Homo sapiens: one gene and its partner. The protein of the gene in region 1 interacts with the protein of each later gene in a pairwise test. Each region holds a gene or a part of one and is shown on either strand. Other genes may lie near its edges. The genes, in order: GNA13 and CXCR5.

Region 1 (3,812 bases):
AATAATTCTGGCAGAGGGACTACGCATGATGAGAGCTATAGAAGCAAAAAATTAGGGTATGTGGGAATCAAGAGATTACAGAGTATGTCCAGTGGCCTAATGAAATATATTGCTGGAATCACAGGTAAGCTAGCTAGAGTCTTTACTCCCACAAAAAAGCTGAGCTCTGTTCTGAAGACAATGGTGAGCCACCAAAGCTTTCTGAGCAAACCAATGCTGTGTTTGAACAAGACTGCCTTGGAGTCCAAGCAAGAGGTAGCAGAACACAAAATAGAGGAAAGGAGGGAATGAATGCAAGAGACGTTACAGAGGTAGAAAAATCAGAACTTGGGGAGCTGCTGCATGTAGATGAGTAGATGGAATTGATGATGACTTTGAGGAAAATTTTAAGTAAGCCAAGTGCCTTCTCAGTGCCTGACACTATGCCAAGCACCACAGCACATCCAAGAGTTTAAGAGTCATTAAGTCAACATAATAATGGAGCATCTCTATGTGTCAGGTGCTATTAACAATGCTGAAGCCACGCACAGTGGTTCATGCCTATAATCCCAACATTTTGGGAAGCCAAGGCAGGAGGACTGCTTGAGGTCAGGAGTCCAAGACCAGCACTGGCAACATAGCAAGACTCCGTCTCTACAAAAATTTTTTTTTAAATTAGCTGGGTGTGACGGCACACACCTGTAGTCCTAGCTACTTGAGAGACTGAAGCTGGAGAATCACTTGAGCCCAGGAGTTGAGTCTACAGTGAGCTATGATCACAACAGGGCACTCCAGCCTGGGCAACAGTGAGACCTTCTCTTAAAAAACAAAAACAAAAAAACAAAAAACAATGCTGAGCGTAGACTCAGGAAAAAAGAATCTCTGTCCTCCAGAAGTTTAAAATTAGGTCTTGCTCTGTTCCTCTTTTCTTGTCTCTACTTTTCATCATGGAAAAAAGTATTTCTGGAACTTATCTCTCCTCATCTTTGAGGACTTCTTTGCTCCTTAAGGATCAACTGGCTCAAGTCAACAACAAGCAGGTCCTCATCCTGAGTGGTTTTACCTATTCGTTCTTAATCACAAAGATATACTTAGGGATGCTTTCTCAACAATGAGGACATGACAGTCCTGATGTGAGACAGTTAGACGTCAGCTTCCAAATTAAAAAACTGTCCATGAAACACAACTTTAATTAAATGGACTTAGGGCAAATACGGAACTTCCCCACAGAGAACTTTCAGGTATGCAGTTCTTTATTTATTCATTTAATCCATATGCACTGTATGCTTATTACAGATGAATGTTTCTTCTCTGACCTGGAAGGATGAATAGAGCCTGACAAAATTGAGTTGAAAGTGTGTGGTTTGTTGAGAAAATGAACTAAGAAGAAAGGAGAATAAGCAGCACTTAAAAACAGGAGGTAGATGGCCAGGCACAGTGGCTCATGCCTGTAATCCCAGCACTTTGGGAGGGCAAGGCAGGCAGATCACCTGAGGTCAGGAGTTAGAGACCAGCTTGACCAACATGGAGAAACACTGTCTCTACTAAAAATACAAAATTAGCCAGGTGTGGTGGCGCATGCCTGTAATCTCAGCTACTTGGGAGGCTGAGGCAGGAGAATCGCCTGAACCCAGGAGGCGGAGGTGAGCCAAGATCGCGCCACTGCACTCCAGCCTGGGCAACAAGAACAAAACTCTCAAAAAAATGCAAAAAAACAAAAAACAGGAGGTAGAGTGATGGGCGATGGAAAGGGGTATATGGAAGAACTCATGCAAGCAAATCTACCAAAAATAAAGTAATAAACATTGATCAAGGGACAAAACTAACCAGAAATCTGGGAATTGGATGGAGGTCATTTGTCAAGTTAAATTCATCATTTTCAACATGCAATACTGGCAGCTACGTAATTTTAACAATAATGTGAGACAGTCCCTGCCTTTCAGAAATAAACACATTACTTGAAAAGACAAGATACAAACATGATAGAAGAGAACTATACAAGACGGTAAATAATCAAATGCTAGTTGAATGACAGATATAAAAGCCATAATTCAGATATAGTCAAAATTAAGGTGTCAGTTTTATAAAAAGCTATCGTGAACACTTTCCTGGAACTTTTAAAAGGCAAGACTGCTTCTAAGTATAAATAATAACAGCAAGGACTGCTGGTTGTACATCGCTTTGCAGCCACACCCATTAATGTGGATTAATGTTGGTGACATCATCAAACAACTTCCTAAGCAGCTTATTTATTTTTTTTTTGGAGATGGAGTTCTGCTCTTGTTGCCCAGGCTGGAGTGCAGTGGCACGAACTCGGCTTACCGCAGCCTCCGCTTCCAGAGTTCAAGCGAGTCTCCTGCCTCAGCCTCCTGAGTAGCTGGGATTACAGGTGCCTGCCACCACACCTGGCTAATTTTTGTATTTTTAGAAGAGACGGTGTTTCACCGTGTTGGCCAGGCTGGTTTCAAACTTCTGACATCAGGTGATCCACCCGCCTCAGACTCCCAAAGTGCTGGGATTACAGGCATGAGCCACCGTGCCCAGCCAGCAGTTTTACTTTTAACTGTCACTTCATTTTAATCATATTAGAGTAAAACACTTCAGATCTGAACTACCTCCAAATTGCACACAGTCTAGATTTCTATCACTGCTGGAATCTTTCTGATCTTTGGCAAATAAAACCCAATCACAGCATTCACAGTTAAATTACAAAACACTTGATTAAAAATTTGTTTCAACTGTATTCTGTATCTTTAACCTGGATTGGATACTTTTATTCCAAACCTGTCTTCAATGCTGTGTAACAGCTACAAAGCATTTTATGGGTAGTCTCGTTAAAGAAAAAAGGGGAAAAATGCCTGGCACAATGCCAGCAATTTGGGAGGTCAAAGTGGGCACATTACCTGAGGTCAGGAGTTCAAGATCAGCCTGGCCAACATGGCGAAACTGCCTCTACTAAAAAGACAAAAATTAGCTAGGTGTGGTGGCACGCGCCTATAGACCCAGCTACACAGGAGGCTGAGGCAGGAGAGTTGCTTGAACCCTGGGGGCAGAGGTTGCAGTGGGCCAAGATCACACCACTGCACTCCAGCCTGGGCAACAGAGACTCCGTCTCAAAACAAACCCCCCAAAAACAAAAAAACAAATTTCTGAGGCTATAATTTTGGATAGATACATTAAATTATGGAAGTCAGTGAAAAAAGTGTGCTAAAATCAGATACAGGTTGAGTGTCCCTTATCCGAATGCCTGGGACCAGAAGTGTTTTGGATTTTGAATTTTTTCAGATTTTTGAAATATCTGCATACATATGAGATATGCTGGGAATGGGACTCAAGTCTAAACTAGAAATTCATTTATGTTTCATATATACCTTAAGATATGTAGCCTAAAGGTAATTTTATACACTATTTTTACACGTAGTCATTAGAGACTAGGACACATTAGGTCTGTGCCTTAGCCTTTCAGTCTGTTCCTCCATCTCAAATACTTTTAGATTTGGGAACATTTCGAATTTTCGCATTAGGGATGTGCAACCTGTATTACTAAACATCATTAAAATAAAACCACACGTTTTAAAAGAGCAAATCTCTTACCAGTTGAAATTCTCGACGCCGGTCATAGGCATTCTGTATGCCGCTGTCTGCCCATAATGCTCTTATAGCAGGAAGATATTGTAAGAAAACCCTTGTTTCCACCATTCCTTGGGCTGCCATGGGGGCCCGGGTATCAAACGACATCATCTTATCTCCATGTTGTTGGTTTGAGTTGTCTCCCCAGGGAATATGAAGCTTCTCTCGAGCATCAACCAGCACCCTCATACCTTTGTTTAAAA
Region 2 (4,293 bases), on another chromosome or scaffold:
TTGGCTGAAAGGGAGCGTGATAACAAGGGTGGGGGTGGGGCCAAGAAGCAGCCACCATGTGTGGGTGCCTCTGTGCGTGCAGTCATCTTTCTCACATCATTGTGGATCAAGAGAGGAAATGCCCACTTCTGGAAGAAAAAGCCACAAAATGAGACTTGGAAGGGAAATTGATCAACATCTACAAAACGGCTTCTTAAAGGAAGCGGCCCTCAGACAGGACAGAGTTGAGGGAAAGGACAGAGGTTATGAGTGCCTGCAAGAGTGGCAGCCTGGAGTAGAGAAAACACTAAAGGTGGAGTCAAAAGACCTGAGTTCAAGTCCCAGCTCTGCCACTGGTTAGCTGTGGGATCTCGGGTAAGTTGCTCTCCCTCTCGGCCTCACGGACCTCCTGAATAAAAATTGAGGGTTAGACTGGATGATCTCTGAAGCCATCTCTAGCTTGGTAGTTTATGAGGTTAATAATTTATGAGCAAACAAAGTTAATTTATAGATAGAACATCATTATTTTTGAGTCAGAAAATGACTCTGTAACTATGTGCTTTTCTTGGTGATTTCACTTTTTTTTTTTCTTTTAGAGACATGGTCTTGCTATGTTGCCCAGGCTGGTATCCAACTCCTGGCCTCAAGCCATCCTCCTGCCTCGGCCTTCCAAAGTTGATTTCATTTTTGTCTTCCAGTATTGTTTTACTGTTGTTCCCTTTGAAAAATTCTAACCTATCTTTTCTGAACTTGAGCTGAGAAGGGAAGGGGTTTTGCCTCTGTTGGGCAAAAGGATGGTGGCAAGTAGTGTGACCAAGTGCCCTAACTTGCCAGGACTTAGGGGTTTCCCAAGTCAAGGGACTTTTCAGTCCTTGGCAGACTGGAATGGTTGATCACCCTAGTGGTGAGGAAAATGAAGGTTTGGAGGTGGCTTGGAGGAGAGGTTGCTGGGAGAGCTCTTCTCCTGTTCTCTGTTGATCAGGAGTTTCCCTCATCAACCTGCTGACTTTGCGTGGTGGTTTCATTACAAGTTGTGAGCCCCTTATTGGGGGTATAGGGAGGAGAAGTGAGGGCAGCCTTTAAACTAGTCATAGGCCCCAGTTGAGACAATTATTGCCGGGAAAGAAGCTGAAATGCTTGACTAGCACTGATGCTGTGGGGGATTTTCCCTCTTTCTTCAAAAAAACAGAAAAGACCCAGTGGAAAAAAAAAAAAAAGTGATGAGTTGTGAGGCAGGTCGCGGCCCTACTGCCTCAGGAGACGATGCGCAGCTCATTTGCTTAAATTTGCAGCTGACGGCTGCCACCTCTCTAGAGGCACCTGGCGGGGAGCCTCTCAACATAAGACAGTGACCAGTCTGGTGACTCACAGCCGGCACAGCCATGAACTACCCGCTAACGCTGGAAATGGACCTCGAGAACCTGGAGGACCTGGTGAGTAGACACGGGTAGCTTCCTGTCGCCGAGGCCCTGTCTGGAATTCTAACATCCTTTGCCAGAGTCCGAGGGAGAGGGGACAGTGTGGGAATCCTCTCCCACTGTGGATCTGTAAAATCTAGACAGGTCAGTCAGCTCCCGCCCTTTAAGAGTTTATTTTCCATTCTGTGGAAGAAGCAGATAAGGAGAGCTGCTGTCCTTAGGAGACATCCTTTAGAGGAAGCTGGAAGACACGGGTTCAGGCCCTGCATCCTCCTCTGAGTTGCTATGTGACTGGGAACAGGATACTTCACCTCTCCATTCTTTCTCTCCTTTTCTCTTAGGGTCGGAATATGGAACTAGACAGGAAAGTACTTTGGAGGTTTTCTTACCGTAAGGAGGCTGGCATTGCTAATCAGTCAATGAATGCATAGCTGTTCGTCTCTGGCCATATGATTATGTCATCAGGGCACTACATTCTGTGTTGGGTGGAGAAGTTGAGGACCTGGTCTTTGCCCTCAAATAGCTTCTGCTCTGGCCAGAGAAAAAAATCACTCACTGGAAGCTATTAGGCAACAATTATGTGCTAAACTGAGGGAATGTGAGACCAGATGGTAGCAAGGAAGAGGATCCCAGCAGGCTGGAGTCAGGGAGCAGGGTGAGAAAACTGTTAATCTGACAAATGTCTTGGAACCTGTTGTAGAATCTCTAGAGATAAGGTATTCTTGGAAAGGTTTCTTGGGTGGGCTAAGAAAATGGTCTCCAGCACTACGCTGCCACCACTCAAGTCTCTCCAGTGAAGCGTAGTGGTGCAGTTGACTTGGTTGTCACTGGGCTCCCAGAAGATGTGTGTGTGTGTGGAGCAGCTCAACCAGAGAAACACAGGGTTCCTTGTGAGCCGACGGCAGAGGCTGGTTGTAAGGGTTTCTTGGAAACTTCTTCACTGTCTTTTCTCCCCCTGGAGAGAGGACTTGTTTCGGGGCTGCACTCTGGGTTAGATCATGAAGGAGCCAAACCCTGGCTCCTACCAACTCTCCTGTCCCAAACTTACCCTAAGATATTGTCTGACTCCCTCCTGCTCCCCCGGCTGGAGTGGACTTTGTGGAGTGGACTTTGTAGTTCCACCAACCATGTTCCCAGACTTGCTCAGAGAAGCCCGCCTCTCGCTTGCCCAGATCCCAAGGCTGGGAAGTGTAAGTAGGACACGGGGAGAAAGTGGGCAGAAGGGCTGACTACCCAAAGCCTGGCCCCTCGGATCCAAACCGTAGGTGGAATCAGAGCCGGACCATTCATCTAACCAGGACCTGCTACATAATTTGTGGGACCCAATGCAAAATGAAAACATGGGGCCCCTTGTTGAAAAATTATTATAAATAAGAAGGCAACAGCAGAGCACTAAACCTCGTGGGGGGTCCTGCTGGGTGCAGGCCCCCGTGTGACTGCCCCAGTTGCAAGCCCATGAAGCTGCCCTGAGTCTAATCACAGAGTCTGGGCAATACCCCAAATCAGACTAAAAACCCGCGGCCCCAAAGGGGCAATGTGCTCCCACCCTGGCCCCCGGTCACAGCCGCTGGCCTCGCCTGATTAGGTTACTGGGCGTCTTCCTCTGCCTGCAGCTTCAAACTGACCACGAGCCCTGACCCAGTTGGACATCTTAGTAACCAACTGGAGACCCGGCGGGTCCCAGCTTCTGAGAAACCTTAAGAGTTTCCCCTAACTGCACGCCTCACCTCACTGAGTGACCTACTAGGGACAGGTGGGGGCAGGGGGCAGGGGCAGCAGGGCATGTCCCAAGAAAACCTACATCTGGGGGAAAGGGACCCAGTGACTTTCTTCATGTCACACCTCAAATGAGTGATCCTCAGCCAGGCATTCCAATATCTGGATCCCTCACTCAGGGTCTAGCCAGGAGCCCAGGAGTCCTAGGACCATCTGGGCTCTGGAGCTCTTCAGCCAGCCACCAGTGCCTCGTTCCCCCTTCACGAATCTCCTACACACCCTGTCTCCAGGGCCAATGTCCCCTCAGAACACAGACCCTCTCCTCCGCCCCCACCCACTCACTGAAGGGCCGTGAGCAGCTTGGCAGACTGTCCCTCAGTGTCACAGTACAAAAACCTCGGGCGTAGTGGTACAGGCAGGAGAATCTTGCATGTAGCAGCTTCTCAATAAGTATTTATTGATTTGTGATGCAGTAAAGGTCTTAGCTCACCATTTTCCTCTGGAGTTAGTCTGGGTCCTTCTATTCCTTCTGCTTCCTATTCTCCTCCTTGTCCTTGCCCATACCAGGTATTGGTTCACATTCCTTGAACGCTGGGTTTTACACTCTCATGTTGAGCTAAGAACTGGGGCCTTTTGGTTACACAAACTTGCCAGAAAAAAAAAAAAAAAAGGAACTGGGGGCTCCTGGCCATAAGCCAGGTTCGTCATTCTGTATTCCATTTGTCCTCTTGAACTCGAAGACCAACTCGAGCCGCTTAAAATGTCCACTTCTTTAAGGCAGGGGCTGGGGGGTGGGGACGGGCTGCTAATTCTCATCAATGAAAGGTCCAAATAGAACAAAAATTAGATGGCTAAGAACCAGGAACAAGAAGATTCCAGGTCCTGGGGTGGGTATGCCAGGGACCCATCCTGCTGGAAAGGCCGATCCTGGCAGACCTAGAGCAGACCCTGTCTATGCGACCCTCGATCTGAGAGCCTCCTTCCAACAGAACCAGGGCCTGGGCTGGGGCATCCACAGAGGCTGGTCATAAACTATACCTCCAGCCCCACCCTGCACACCAGCCGGGAGGGGAAGCTGCTATAGCGCACGGTGAAGCTGGTCCAAGCCCCAGAGCCTGGCTTTCTATGACCCCTCTCCATAGACAATTACCACACATCATGACTTCAGTGTGACCAGAGC

Evidence for each region.
Region 2: the proteins of GNA13 (region 1) and CXCR5 interact in binary tests that used the Homo sapiens proteins (3 or more experiments, as listed by UniProt).

The regions. Positions count from the first base shown.
Region 1 is NC_000017.11:65,049,929-65,053,740, forward strand, and holds part of GNA13 (guanine nucleotide-binding protein subunit alpha-13), read right to left. Parts: intron 3,801-3,812; coding exon 3,574-3,800; intron 1-3,573. UniProt on the Homo sapiens protein: Guanine nucleotide-binding proteins (G proteins) are involved as modulators or transducers in various transmembrane signaling systems.
Region 2 is NC_000011.10:118,882,581-118,886,873, forward strand, and holds the start of CXCR5 (C-X-C chemokine receptor type 5), read left to right. Parts: upstream 1-1,311; 5' UTR 1,312-1,361; coding exon 1,362-1,412; intron 1,413-3,546; exon of another isoform or gene 3,547-4,293. UniProt on the Homo sapiens protein: Cytokine receptor that binds to B-lymphocyte chemoattractant (BLC). Involved in B-cell migration into B-cell follicles of spleen and Peyer patches but not into those of mesenteric or peripheral lymph nodes.